Regions from separate parts of the Homo sapiens genome. Here region 1 is linked to region 2. A link means that fine-mapping ties the variant in region 2 to the expression of a gene that starts in the linked region. Tissue or cell type: whole blood. Region 2 holds a variant in brackets; the other region holds the start of a gene. All regions are shown on one strand. Distances are from middle to middle.

Evidence for each region. PIP is the estimated chance that this variant, and not a neighbour inherited with it, causes the effect.
Region 1: it holds the start of TPP2, and the variant in region 2 is fine-mapped to the expression of TPP2 in whole blood (TOPMed, PIP above 0.99).

Annotation. Positions count from the first base shown.
Region 1 is chr13:102,594,111-102,601,218 of GRCh38, reverse strand. It overlaps TPP2 (tripeptidyl peptidase 2), which reads right to left and starts at 4,233. Exons shown (of 30, transcript NM_001330588.2): 1 at 4,016-4,233. The coding sequence starts at 4,180. It overlaps LOC107984588 (a long non-coding RNA gene), which reads left to right and starts at 4,277. Exons shown (of 2, transcript XR_001749984.3): 1 at 4,277-4,771; 2 at 6,818-7,108. RefSeq lists silencers at 3,720-4,009, 4,170-4,459 and enhancers at 4,530-4,589, 4,640-4,799.
Region 2 is chr13:102,644,353-102,652,636 of GRCh38, reverse strand. It overlaps TPP2 (tripeptidyl peptidase 2), which reads right to left. Exons shown (of 30, transcript NM_001330588.2): 18 at 7,964-8,080; 19 at 7,628-7,728; 20 at 6,247-6,343; 21 at 5,293-5,430; 22 at 3,486-3,730; 23 at 3,151-3,229; 24 at 1,240-1,278. Among named protein-coding and RNA genes, the nearest start is that of METTL21C, 47 kb to the left of the region's middle. The variant T/C (reference allele first, on the strand shown) is at 3,752.

The sequences.
Region 1 (7,108 bases), 51 kb after region 2:
GATTAATATAAATAAGACAATCTTTGCTTTTGTAAAGGTTACTATTGGTTGGAAAGAAAAAGTAAGTAGAGAGATGATGACAAAACAGGACAACAAATAATAGAGGTCAGGCCAGTCTGGGTAACACAGTGAGACCCTGTCTCTACAAAAAAATTAAAAAATTAGCTGGGTATGGTGGCACATGCTTATGGTCCCAGCTACTGCAGTGGCTGAGGCAGGAGGCTTGCTTAAACCCAGGAGTTTGAGGCTGAAATGAGTGGTGATCCTGCCACTGTGCCACTGTACTCCAGCCTGGGTGACAGAGTGAGACCCTGTCTTTGAGGGAAAAAAAAAAAAGAGGTTAGGACACTATCTATGAAAGCATACAAAAACATGTAAAAACACAAAACCCAACTTGGGGGGAATGAGGGAAAGCTAACTGAAAGAGAGGTAATAAAATTTTAGTGAATGTAAAAATAGAGTTTTATGAAACTACTCGTAACCTCCTCAAACCTTTTTTTTCCCTCTATGAGGAAATTATATTCCTTCATTATGCCCATATATATTTTTTCCATTCAACAAAAACATTTAACATTACAAGCACATGTCATACAATTTTGATACATGCTTTCAAAGATTTTTAAGTTAACCAGGAAAAAGTTATCTAAACAGAAACACTAAAATACATATTTCAGGTGCTATTAAGGGGATCTAAGCAAATTGCTATAACAGCAAAGAGACAAAAAGCCTAAATAACTCTTAGGAGGGATTGGGCCTTACTCACCTCTGAAGCTGCAGGCCCTAACACAATGGCAAACACACATAAATACGAGGTGGTGGGGGGAGGGGGCGCGCAGAATTAAATCAGTTGATTTTCCAAAACATAATGGTGTCAAGACCCGACTGGATCTTAAAGGATGAAGCAGGAGTTTACAGATGACGGATGGTAGAAGCCTGACGGAAGATGAAACGCCACATGTAAAGGCATGTATTGGCAAAAAGACCTGAAACATCTAGGTGAGTGTAAGAATGAAATGTTCAAGGGGAGGCAAAGGATGAAAGGTGGGGATGAAGGGGCTATGGACATAAGAAATGATGAGAACTGAGGCTACATAAGGAGGCCAGAGTTGGATGGCAAATGGCCTCATATATACCATTCAATTTTTTTTTTTAATTTTTACACAAAAGCAGTTGAGATTCCAAAATGGCTTTGTTTTAAATGAGGGTATAATACAAGGTTTTTTTTTTTTTTTAAGGAATCTAACTCTAGAAATGTGAAGGATGGATCAAAGAGAAACAAGACTGGTGGAAGGGAGACCTCCTGGCTATTGCATACATATATTCTGGTCTAGTCCAAGTTCCATCTGGTCTGTGAAACCTGACCAGTCCAGCTCTTACTGGCCAATGCTGCCCCAATCCCTGCCCCATCCCCCCAATAATCCTTGTCAATCTCTGCAAGAGTGACAGTTTGCAAGACTATATCATTTAACACAAACTTAGGCACCTGGTAGGTGCCTGAATATCTGCTGAGGAAATATGAAATCACTTACGTAACTACTACTCTTCTCATGCCACCCATCCTCCACTTGATCATGCCCACAGACCTGTCACAAAAGAATTGGGCCCAAGGAAGTCACCAAAGACTGAGACAACCCACTGTGTTCTTCCACGTTTTCACTTGTGCCTCTAGTCCTTTATTCAGACCCCACCCGGCTTTCCAAACTGCCAGTTCAGCCTCATCTTCCTCCTATTTCATTCTTTCCTTCCTTTTTCTTTCTATCCATCCTCTAATCTTAATGATGTACACATATATCTACAAAATAAATCTGTTAAAGGTACAGGAAAAAAAAATCCTCACGTTTGCAAGCCACCGTACCCAATTTCTTTTAACTGGCTATGTTTAGGCCAATATCTGAGTCAAGGTTGTTAAAAGAGAAGACTTATGCTTTCATTTTATTTCAATATTTTATCATCTGAATATTTATTACATGCAAATATCTAACATATATTTACCCTCCAAATAGTTGGTGATGAAAGATCCAGCATAAACTTCTATTCACTTATGGTGGGAGCTAAATATTGAGTACACATGGACACAAAGACGGGAACAACAGATACTGGGGATCCCAAAGGGAAGGGGTGGAAATAAGACTGAAACACTACCTACTGGGTACCACGCTCACTACCTGGGTGACAGGATCAATCACACCCCAAACCTTAACATCAGGCAATACCCCCATGTAACAAACCTGTACTTCTACCTTCTGAATCTAAAATAAAAGTTGAAATTATATATACAAAAAAGAATAAATATCATTGCCAAAATAGTTTAATATTTTTCTTGAGCATTTAAAAAAGTCACATGTAATTAGCCAGTCCTCTTATAATCAATTTTCACAACAAGGCTGTGGGGTGAAAATTATTGTTACTTTAGAGAGAGTAACAGAATAATGTGAGAAACAGATCTGGAAATTCTACCAACAAATTCTACCAAGCAGCACTTCTCCAAACTTTTCTGACCCTCTTATTATCCTGACAAAAGAACCGGTGAACCACTTATCCCAGCTGTTTTCCTCCCACTCATCCTATAAAAAGTAAACACACTCCACAGCTGAATGAAAAGCATTATTACTTTGTAATAAAGCCCCAAATGAGTTGATAGCTGTCATTGTTCTAAGTCTTTAAGTTATTAATACAACGACAACTATATAACTCCAGTTACCGGGAGGGAATTCAGTACCTGATCCTCTTCTGATTCACAAAAGATGTGCTGTACTCCAGAGTGGTGCTGAAGAACACACACCAGGAATCAAGATTCCCAGGGGTTTCTAAGCAGATTCGGCCAGACTCCCCCTCGTTACTTCCAAAATGCTACCTCAATAATCAGAAAGCACGATAAAGGATCCAGAAGGGAAGGGACATTGTGGGGAGGAGGATGAGTGTTTAGTGTAGAAAGGAGGATAAGATAGCCAGGGGCTGATCAACGAGAGATCAGCATACAGTAGGATTAGTCAGGGATGCTGGGAGATGGATCTTGAATAACGGTGAAATTTTATTACTGGATTTCAGTAAAGGGTTAAAAGTACAAAAGTTAAACTTTAAAGACTTTAAACAGAATGCTTTTAACGAGAGACAACATACTTTCAAAAAAACTACCTTCTGGTATGATACCTTGAATCTACAGATTTTAAAGTTGCCTAAGGCAAAAAACTAAGTAATTTTTAAAAACCGTCGTATGTTTTCAGGTTTAAAAAAAAAAAAGTCGCATATTTTCATAAGGTCTGAGAAGCTCGCCAAAACCAAACCTAACTGAATTCTCCTTATGTAAACGAAGACTAAGCCACAAGATTCAATGACCCTAAGCAAACACGCTGCAGAAGACCGTTTAAAAATAGAATACACAAAACTACCACAGGAAACAATTCCGGAAGAGGACTGGGTTATCTTCTGGAAACCCAGCTTTCGTGCTTAAAGACAAACTATTCTTCCCCAAACCAAATCTCCCGATCCCTAAACATTAAGTTCTCACATGTCAGTTGCCTATCTGGTGTCTCCACCCCACCCCAATGATAAAAGCTGTAAAATTCTCTTTAAAAACGTCAGGCTGGGACCGGTGTCCGAGGCACGAGGGGTAGGCAGAGGAAGGCGGCGTGGAGGGAAGGAGCCTGGGGGGTCCGGCCTGGCAGCGCCGAAGCGAGAAGGAAGGGGAGTCCCTGGGGCCAAAGGGGGACCCAGGCTTCCCCAGGCAGCCGCGCCGGGCACGCTGCTTTTGTTGAGCTGGGGGGACCACGGCCCAACCTGGGGTCCGGGCCCTCGCCCGCCCAGCGACCCTGGCACTGTGCGCCGTTGAGTCCCCTTGGCGGGCGCCCGTCCCTCCCGCGCCTGGCTCTGACCTCTGCCCACCCCGGTGCTGCCCACCCCGGCCCGGACTCGGCCGCAGAGCGGGGCTTTGGCCTGCCGGGCTCCGAGACTGTGTCCCCACCCGCGTCCCCGGCCGCCCGCGCCCCCGCGCCCGGGCCCTCGGGGGCCGCCTCACCTGCATGCCCGGAGCCCCCGGGTCGACCCCCGTGTCCAGGACTGCGATGAGCACCCCCCGCCCATCATACTCCGGGTAGCGGCAGAGGAAGGAGGCGGCTCCGGTCTCCTTCTTCGGCAGGAGACCGTGAAAAGGGAAGGGCTCCTCAGTCGCAGCGGTGGCCATGGACGCAGGATGGAGGACGAGGAAGCGGCAAACTGCCAGGCTGCGCGCGGACTAGCAGCGCGAGGACACCCGTGCGGCCTCGGGCCGGAGGCGGGGGCGAGGGGCGGGGTCGGCCCGTCTTCCACCAATCCCGGCCTGCCAGGGAGCGGTGGCCAATCACGTGCTGCTACGTAAGCCAACGGCGCCGCTCTCAGGAGCTAGGCCCGAGTATTGCCCGGGCTGCAGTGAAGGGGGAGGAGTCTGAGGACATTACTGGAGGGTTCGGATCTCGAACCTGGGGCCTTGAAGAGGCCCGCGCTTGGGGTTTTTAGGCAACAGCAGGCCTCCAAGCAGAGTCCTGGTGTCCCGGACCGAATCACTCCCCGAGAGACGGGCAAGGAGATGGACCGCCAGCCAGGAATAATGGGAACCCTTCGCTTGGCAAACGATAGTTTCCAAACTTAAGGTTGTGGATGAAACTTTTTGGTGCGGCTGCTGCAGGAGCCCCAGCCCCGGGGTGCTGCTGACCCGAGGCAAGGGAGCCGGCGCACTCACGCTTAGCCGCTAAGGAGTCTGCGGTGTCGGCGAAAGCTCCGGACATGATTTTGGAAGGTCGTAGGTTAAGGGGTGTAGACTTTGGGTTCCCCTGTGTTGTTATGCCCCTTTGATGGGGGTGAGGTGGTGAGGGGGAGCAATAGGGTGGAGACAGGCAATAGTTTCAGTCAACAGGAAGTGGGTTGTTGGTCATTCCGTCGCCTTTGTAGCCAGTAACAAAGCACGAGACTGAAATGGGCCCCTCCTATCCTCTGCTGATCCTTAGCTTCCGGGATTTCTGAAAAACATCTTTTTTTTTCCTCTTACACTGAAGTTTCTGATTGCTCCTTACGGCTGTCCACTCAATTATAGAGCCATAATTTTCAGTTTTCCAGATTCACAGTGCCTGCCGTCAGTTGCTGCAAGCTGCATAGTGGTCCTCTAATGATCTTTATGTCTATGCTCATGCCAGGGTAATCTTAGCCTTTTATTGTGCCGAAGACCCCTTTGGCAATCTGGTGAGGCCTATTTCTCAAGCAGTGTTTTAAAATGCATACAATGAAATAGATAGGATTACCCAGGAAATAAATTATGTTTAAATGCAGTTATCAAAAATACTAAAGGCAATTTTGTTATATAGCAGGAGCTTTACGTGTGTGTGTATAGTTACAGGTGTACTTCTTTTGCATTAAATAACAGGAGCTAGGGCCAAGGCTAATAAACTACCATAACTTCAAAATAGTGAAGAATATAATTATTTGGAGATAGCGGTGAAAACTGCACTACGATGAACTGATTTTTATTGGTGACATAACAGCATAACTACCCTGGTTTTTGCCTACATTCATACTTGATGTGAAAAAAATTAAGAGGTTTGTATCTTTTTTCTACGGAAGTTTTTGAACCCCTTGGATTCTGTCTATGGACACCAAGTTAAGAATACCTGGTATAAAGGAAAGCCTTATGCATGCGGTTTCCAACCCACAGAATTTCAGAGATCCTCCATTAAGTCTCAAAAATTATTCTTATGGCTGTGCAATGGTTTCAGCTGATTCCTTGATCATTTATTCAGTCCATAAGTCTTACACAAGCATGTTCTCTTTAGTGCAGAGGAAAAAGAAAAGTTGAATGTTTTTCTTCTTATTCCCAACTGTTTACATTACCTCTAGAAAAGAATTTCAAATTAACACAGACGAAAACAGAATAACAAACTCGCAGAAGACATTCAGTATAGAGCTTATAGTGATAGAACAGAATGGCTCCCAGTTTCAAGTGAACCATAGTCCAATCACTTCATTTTATAGATGAAGAAACAAAGTTAACTGACTGTCATGGATTACAAAACAGGTTGATGAAAACACGGGATTTGTCTTCTCACAATCTCTCCCCAGTATGTTCTACCACACCATGTGCATGACTTTGCCAGAGTATCACCCAATGAATAAATGGGGAATGAACAGTTTATTATGAAACCTAGGTGGCAGACTTTTTATTAGACTGCCGTAACAATGTTCTTTAGATTTTTCTTTTCCTTTCCTTTTCTTTTTCTTTTTTGACACAGAGTCTCACTCTGTGGCCCAGGCTGGAGTGCAATGTCACAATCTCGGGTAACTGTAACCTCCGCCTCCCGGGTTCAAGCAGTTCTCCTGCCTCAGCCTCCCGAGTAGCTGGGATTACAGGTGCATGCCACCACACCTGGCTAGTTTTTGTATTTTTAGTAGAGACGGGGTTTCGCCATGTTGGCCAGGCTGGTCTTGAACTCCTGACCTTAGGGGATCCACCCACCTCGGCCTCCCAAGGTGCTCAGATTACAGGCATCAGCCACTGCACCCGGCCAGATTTTTCTTTTTTTGCTTACATATCCCATAAACATGTTTTTAAAAAAGTTATGTATCCCTTTGTACAGCTGTAAAATGAAGTCTAAATTTGTCACAATTTTTTTTTTTTTTTTTGAGATGGAGTTTTGCTCTTCTTGCCCAGGCTGGAGTGCAATGGCGGGATCTCGGCTCACTGCAACCTCCACCTCCCGGGGTTCAAGTGATTCTCCTGCCTCAGCCTCCCAAGTAGCTGGGATTACAGGCATGTGCCACCACACCCAGCTAATGTTTGTATTTTTTTAAATAGATACGGGGTTTCTCCATGTTGATGTCAGACTGGTCTCGAACTCCCGACCTCAGGTGATCCACCCGCCTCGGCCCCCCAAAGTGCTGGCATTACAAGCGTGAATCACTGCGCCCGGCCTATCATAAATTTTAAAAATTATAAAGGATGTAATTTCTGGCATAGTATAAATATCGTCATTATTTAATGAAACTTTCACGTTTCTCATGTAAATATACCCAGTTGAGTGTAACTCTGATAGCTACCATCAACTATTTATAAAATATCTGAACACTTAAAAGCAGACATTTTATA
Region 2 (8,284 bases):
TAAAGGATAAGCTGTTATAGAATGGTGATTCCCCAGTTCCATATCACTACTAATTAACAAGTATACATTAGGACATTACTGATTTTCCCACTGTAATTCTTTCTGTTTAAAAAGAAATCATGAAAATGTTGAATGACGTAGCACGTCTTCACCAGAAAGCTTATTAAATATGTGGTCCCTTTTATATATATATATATATATATATATATATATATATATATATATATATATATATATATGTATGTATGTTTTGTTTTGAGACAGGGTCTCACTCTGTCACCCAGACTGGAGTGCAGTGGTGTGATCTCAGCTTACTGCAGCCTCCACCTCCCAGGCTCAAGCGATCTTTCCACCTCAGCCTCCAATAGAGTAGCTGGGACTATAAGTGTGTGCTACCACGCCTGGCTAATTTTTGCATTTTTTTGTAGAGACAGGGTTTCACCATGCTGCCCAGGCTGGTTTCAAACCGCTGAGCTCAAGGGATCTGCCCAACTTGCCCTCCCAAAGTGCCGGGATTACAGGCATGAGTCACTGCGCCTGGCCCTAAAATATATTTATAGCAGACATTTTCTTTTCTGAGTTAAATCTGGCCCCAGCAGTAAATCAAAGATTGCTTAATATGCTGCAGAGAGGCTGATCAGACCACTTAGTAGCGATGGGCTTAAAATCTGTGTTCTTAGCATAAGCTTTAATTGTCAGTGAACAGTCCTTATTTCTGTTCCTGCTACATCCATTGATCTTTATTGTTTCTCTTCTTTCAGAACCAGAATGGATACAAGAGCAGGGAATAAAGTTCGCTTTAAAAAGCTGCAACATTTTATTAATCAAATCACCCAATTTAAAAGTGCTTTTAGACTTTAAAAATAAGTGCTTTAGCTTATATGGCTAAAAAAAAAAAATTATCACATCCATCTCTCTATAAAATTGTAAATATGAAAAATTTCAAATATTGCTACTTGTTATCATATCTGTAGCAAGAAATGAATAGCATTAAAATTTTTGTATACACAGAGAAAATGAGTCATCCAGGAATTTATGGTGGGGAAAAAAAAAAAAACCTTTAGAAAAGCAGTATGTCAACAATGCTTCTAAGTACAGCTAAGAGCACTATACTTTAGAATGCAAAGAAAGGAAACTAAGGGAGACTTATTAAAAAAAAGGTTTATAATAGTGACAGAAAAAAGTTTAATATGCAAATAAGGCTTTAAGACATCTTTTTTAAGAACTGACAATCAGTACCTTTTTAAATTTTCCTTGTCGTTTTGCTGCAGACTGCCCCTGGGAGTTAGAACGACATTCTGTAAGAAAACATGCATAATCTACACAGGATGGAGACAGAACCTCTGTCTAATTGTCTTTCAGTTTATGTTCCACCTGTGTTACACCACTTAGAAGGCTCAGGTCTGTGATTAAGATGGCATGCTTTTAAAGAAAGCAACATTGCCACTTTCATTCCTTACATAAGAAAAAGTACTCAAATATGTTATTACTAAGAGTACATGTCAACTTCTTATTGAAAAATTTAGTAGATCAAAATCTATTGCTTATAAAAGCATTTCTTAAAATAGTAAATTTAGTTGATGGTCTAGTCTGATTAAAGGGTACCACAACAACCCCATTGCCTATGCATTCTTATAAAAAGCAACAAAGTTACTGTGAAAGTCAAAGTGAAGTGAAAGTTACCTTCCCAACTACCAAAAAACAAGAAAACGCTAAACCACTGAGAAAAGATTACATAAACAATGTGATGGAAGTTATAATGAACTCAACAGCTTTAAGTTACTGCTTTCTCCCAGGAAGGTCTCCCTTGATAAATAGCTACCATAGTTAACACCACATATTTATAATTTAATTTCACAATTGTCTCCTAAAACAATGTAACTGGGAAGTAGTAACTATTTCTGAATTGCTAAAAGCCCACTTTTACTAATAATGCTTTTCTGTTATACTCTTCACAAGTAAGCAGACTCTTCAAAGTGTCATCTGTCATCTGAACGAAAATTCACAGCTGACGCCCAATAGCTGGAGCAGCTATGCTTCCTGTGAAATGAAATCTACAAAAAAAACTACCAGGGTTTCTTAAATCAGTGCATGTATTAATTACAAACCATTAACTATTGATTTACTTCAAATTATACTAAAGTACGTATGTATAAACAGTATAAACTGAAATGAGACCCAAGAAATGTCAGGGTAGGCAACTTTCTAAGCACAAGTTTCCCCAATTATGCTTCAATGACAGTAAATAAATGGCTTTTGGTTCAATAGTGGCAAAAAATAAATATAATTCTTAAGATGTATGAGAACTACTCATTTTGATAACAGCATTTATGTAGCAGGCTTACTTAGCTCTGTAAGAAGTAATAGTACAGAGAAATGCAAAACTGTTAAGAATGACAACTTTTACTGGCATTGAGCTAAAATGATTATTATGACAAAAGGTGATAGATCTATATAAACATCATTCTCATAATAAATTTGTAATGAAAACATAGAAGGAAAAAACAAAAACAGGTAGGTACTTATAAAACTGTAACATATATGTCTAAAGTACAACAACCAGAAACATATTTCTAAAAAAAGCATCATTTTGAAATTAAAAGGCAATACCAAAAGAAACATCTCATATTTTCCTACTTAACCATGTGAAATTCCAATGAGATAGGTCTGTAGAAGTGTGAAGAAACATGTTTTAGGGTAATTGTTCTGACTACTTTTTAAAAGCACCCCAAGATAATCTGATTTATTCCTATGTCCATAATCTTATATGGACAACCAATCTTATTGGTTAAATTTCTATAACATGTTCTAATCTTAAATATCACATGTATTTAAGCCAAGTTTGATTTGTATTTACATGTTTCACAGGAAGTTCAAGTGTATTAGCCGTAGGAGGTAAGACAGGTTCAGGGCCTGAGTACTGTAGGCTTGTGAAAAAGAAGCCTAAATATTTCAAAAGTAGCATACATTTTAAAAGACAACTAAATATTAACTGACTTTCACTAGTAACCTGGGAAAAAAGGATTAAATTTTTTTCCCCAAGAGTATATCTTCTCTTTTATCCATTCTGAAATGTGGAATTAATTCTTATCTTTAAAGAAATGAAATTTTTTAATAGGTAATTTCAGTGTTTAAAAAACTAATACTTACAGCTTTCTTTCCTAGTTCAGTCTTTGACAATGTTAAGGATCCTGCAAGATAGCATCCAGGTCCTGCCCCTTTAGGTATTCTAAACAAGAGAATTCAAAGAGAAAAAAAGCAACAAAAGAGAAAGTTTCACAAAGACAAGTAAGGGGAAAAACATGAAAACAATTCCACACTGAATTCATTCCCATAGCTAAGACTTCAAAAATCAAAGGAAGAAATACTTCAGCCAAAAAAAAAATGACTACATCCTCTAAATTTAGCCTAGATGTCATAAACTGACATTAAAAGGACTACAGTGTATACGATGGGCAGTAAGTATAAGCAATGTTATCACTTACTTATCATCAGGTAAGGAAGTAACAAAGAATGGCTGGTTATATTTGGGTGGTAATGTCAAATTGCTTGATTTCTTCTTCCCTAGAAGTGCAAAACTATGATTTTCATGAATATCTAAGCTCAAGGTATTAGACAATCTATGAGAAACAATAAATGGAAGGTCTTTAAGGCGTTCCAAATCACTGATTTGCTCATGGCGAATCTGTAGTCGAATTGTATAATCTCCTTTCTCCAGTTTCAAAGAATACTGAAAAAGAAAAACAACATT[T/C]GGGAAAAGTTAAGTTTAACCAAGTCAACGGAAATCACTGAAAGAGGATAAAGTGAAAGTTACCATTCACAGACTTGTTCATAATATGTGAGGTACAGTGCAAGGAACTAACTATCCAGACGTTCATATAACACATAAAGTCCCTAGTACGCTGGTGAGCAGACAGGATCAGGGACATCAAGTGACTTGCCTAACATCACACAGAGTAAAGTATAAGAGAGCTGAAGTCAGGTCTGACTTCAAAGCCCTCATTCTTTCCAGAACGACAGAATACTCCCACACTTTTAGCAAAACTCAGTGTCTGCTTGAGAATGACAAAAGCAGTGATTTTCTAGTTCATGGGTCCCTCAGAGACATATAAGAAACACTACCAAAAAAATGAGCAAAATTGAGGCACCATAGAATATCTAGGACAAATACACACACACACACACACACACACACACACACACACACGTGTAACTTATGACTACTGGTAATCCTTATTTCCTTTTAGAGAGGGGGACTCACTATGTTGCCCAGGCTGAAGTGCAGTGGCTGTTAACTGGTGCAATCATAGTGCACCATAGCCTAGAGCTCCAGGGCTCAAGCGATCCTCCCACCTCAGCTTCCTGAGTAGACGGGATCACAGGCATGTGCCACCATGCCCAGCTGATCTTCAAATTACAACCAAAATGTCACTCCTTTATTACAGACAGGAAAAAAACAGGAAACCAATAGAGATCAAGGGATACAAATCTATTATCCACTTAACAGGTTCAAGAGGAAGAGATGCTGTATCCTGTGTCAGCCACTTTTTCTGAGATTTAAAAAGTAACCAAAATAATAGCACTGCAGTAGGCCAGTCTGTAATGAGATGTGACTGCTACTTGCTTTGAGGAAAATCGATACCATTCCTTTAACAACTAATTGAAAAAAATCTCCATAAATTATTTTCATTTGTCAACATAAAATTATACATATTACAGGAAATATCTCATTTCTTTGCAGTAATATCTAAGGGATAAAATGTCTATAAATTATGTGATTTTTCCCTTCAATAAAACAGCACAAAGCATAGTGCCTGGTATGTAGTAAGTGCTCATTACAGAGTTGTCCAACGAGGTAGTAAATTTAAAAGTACAAATGAACTGAAGACATGCGGCCACTGCTGCAGTGCTCTCTTTAGCCCCCTCAGACTTAGGATCATTTCAAGAGGCTCGCATCTCTTTGATGCATGCTTTGATGATTCTACCTTCAGATAGGTAGAATCAGTGTATAGGAAGGAGAAACACCACACACCAAAAGTTATGCTGGCCAGTGTGGGCAAGGTTCACCCTTGTCCTCCTCTAATTCAGCACAACTACATGGTGAAATAGTTGACACCATCTGTTCTTCACCGACTACAACAAACAGGCTCTCACAGTTTGCAAAAGTACTAAACACAAAGCTATAATTTTTGTTTTTTTTAAAGTATGAACATTACCATAACAAGAAACCAGGATTTTGTTAGTTCAGGAAACAGCTTCCGTTAATTCTAAAAATCACCATCAATTTTATACCTGATGTGGATAGGCATCGCCTGAACCCATCTGTCTTTTGTTCTGGTCAAAAATAATCCACAGTTGGCTGTCAAATTCAGATTCATATAATAGTTCACAAAGTAGTGGGCAGCTTGGAGTTACTTCCCCACTCTTGGGCTATTAAAAAACAAAAAAGATTACTTGGCATGATTTGCATATAATTTCTGATACAAATTTTTAATATTGTTATTGACATGAGACTTTTTCATTTAAAAAACATTAAAAATACTTGTGGTAAAAAATTTTGAAAATATAGAACACACAGTATTTTAGCACTTATAAAAGTCACTGCTCTCTTACAAACTTTTAAAAATACACACCTGGCTATGTGTATTCATTAATAAAGCAACATATACATACTTCAGGACCTCTAATTACTTTATAAAACTGAAATGTGAAAATTCACTGAAACCAATCCATTTCCCTAACATTATAACCAAACTGATGTGTGTTTCAGTAACAGTTTTATTGAAATCTCATTGATCTTACAACAATTCTTTGGTCCAGCATTTACACTGGCCTCCATTACTTTTGCCACCCATCCCACCTGGGAGCTACTCTGACCTTTCCCTGTTCCAGTGCCTTCTTCGCAGAAAGCAATCAGGCCCAGCACCATCACCAGAAGGCAGATGGTATTTCTGAGCCATCTAATCACCCCTGGGTCAGATGGCACCAATGGACAGTGATCAGTGATTTTATAAACTAAGGCTTAAGGCTAGGTCACCACTCAATTACATTTTGTGACTTTACAACTGAATGGTATTTAATTACAAATTATAATTTCCTAAAGAGTAATTCCAAATTAACTGTTAATCACTTGATTCTGTTTTTTATATATACCATATACACTGTCCTTCCATTTTTGATTCTATGAATCATAAATAAAACACAAAAGTTCATCCTAAGGGTACACTTTACTAGGCAAACACTTACTTGATGAAAGTTATATGTCAGGACCATCTCATAAAGTTGACGGTTATTTGGCAAAACATCTCTTGATCCTAAAGGTTTTGTTTTTGCACTCACTGGGCTGTAATGAGGAAACTACATAACTGGTTTGATTCAAGAGTTCATTGAATGAGACAAATAAAACCATATGCAACAAAATCTGTAACATATTGCAAAAAGTGCAGATGAACCTTCCTGAGAGCTATCCTTTTCAGTATACTCTACAATATTTTAATCACTAACTTACATAATTATTTGATTGAATCATATCAATACATACAGTTTAGATTTTGCAATAAATATGACAAAGGCAATCTTTTCATGGCAAAAACATTTTCAAATGTGAACAAACAGCTCTCAATACAACCAAATCCTAACACTAGGGTGACAACTAAAAGTGTTGCAAGACAGGTTCTGATTTGTACCCCTTGTGCAAACTGTTGACAGTACTGTGTTGTGTGCAGCACAGACCTCCCCAGACCCCTGCTGCTCACCAGATGGCAGGGGCCACACTCAGCCCTCCTCCTGGCCGAGGGAATGTTATTTCATATTTTTAGTAGTCCTCTGAAGGAAGTTGCTAATGTACAGATTTTATAAAGGAGAAAACTGACACTGAAGAGTAAGTTTTAAATATAGTTTAAAATGTCAGTGAAACATAATCTACTCTAAATTTAGCTCCAATTTTTTAGATTTAGGAAGAAAACATCAGGATGATATAAGTTGGATATATCTTCAAAAGCTGGATGTTTTAATTTTTATTGATAATTCTAGGAAGCAGTATATCTTTAGACATCACCGTGTCACTGACTATTGTCCCTAATTGGTTATTTTAATACACTTAAGACTAGGCTTCATGCCGATGAGTTAAGGTCAGATTAAACAAAAGAAACCAGGTATCTTTATAACACAGTGAGTATGTGAACACAGGTCAAGGTGCCCTGCTTTTGTAAGGGGAGCTGCTGAGGCACAAACAGCAGGCTACAGTACTTAAGTTTCTACCATTTAATAAACAGTTTCTAATGGTATTGCAGTTTCTAAAAATGACTGCATTAGGATTCACAAAATAATATCAGAGAGAATGTTAACTTGCTATTTTACAGCAAGAAATAAAAAGGTTAATGTCCACTGATCCTAACTAGTCATGACTGGGATCGGCTATCCACCATCCTTGACTTTGCTGGTCAGGTGGGACAGTGAAGCTAGAAGCTGATACTGGGGCTGCCTTGCAGAGATCTGCTGGCAAGGATAAAATTCTCACCTCTAGCATGCAGGTGGATTAAAAAAAAAAAAGGCCCTTTTTTAAGAGTGTAAGAGATCCCCCCAATCTATATTCAATATCTGTAGTTCCTAAAACATTGAATGATACCGCAGTGTTTGGACCCAGTTCTTCAAAGTTATGCAGGGAGCCAGATCTTCGTATTTCAAGGAGGACTGAACATCAAAGCGGTTGATTCCTTCCGATGCATGCTACAAAGGATTTCTCAAATTACTTTCTCAAACTTTACTAAAAATAAGCAATATTTTGTACCTAAAATAAATGTGTCCAATATAAAGTTTATAAGTACCCACACACAAAGCCTACTGCTATCTTCAGAACCACAGGTAATTTCCCCTCATTAAAGTTTAAATCTAACCAATGAAGTTACTCTCCAGTAACACAAGTAACTGACATTAAAAATCATGAAAATGTTGTGGAACTTACAATGTTTAACTGAGGAGCAGTACACACTATCCCATGGAAAGAAATGGTATAATCAATGTTGACATCACTGAGACTTGCCCACCAACGAGCAATGCAAAATTCAATTGCTTTTCCACCCTGCAAATAAAAGTAAATAAAATATATCTCTTTTCTTATTTTTCTCAAATTACAGAATATAAATACTAGCTGTTTCAGAGCAATTCTGTTTTCAAACTTTTCCTGTTTGTAGCAAGAAAACTCAAAAATTTTAACAGCTATGCTAAGTAAGAGTTAGACAAATCATTTGCAGAGATATGGTGTATTTAAATATACATAGTTATT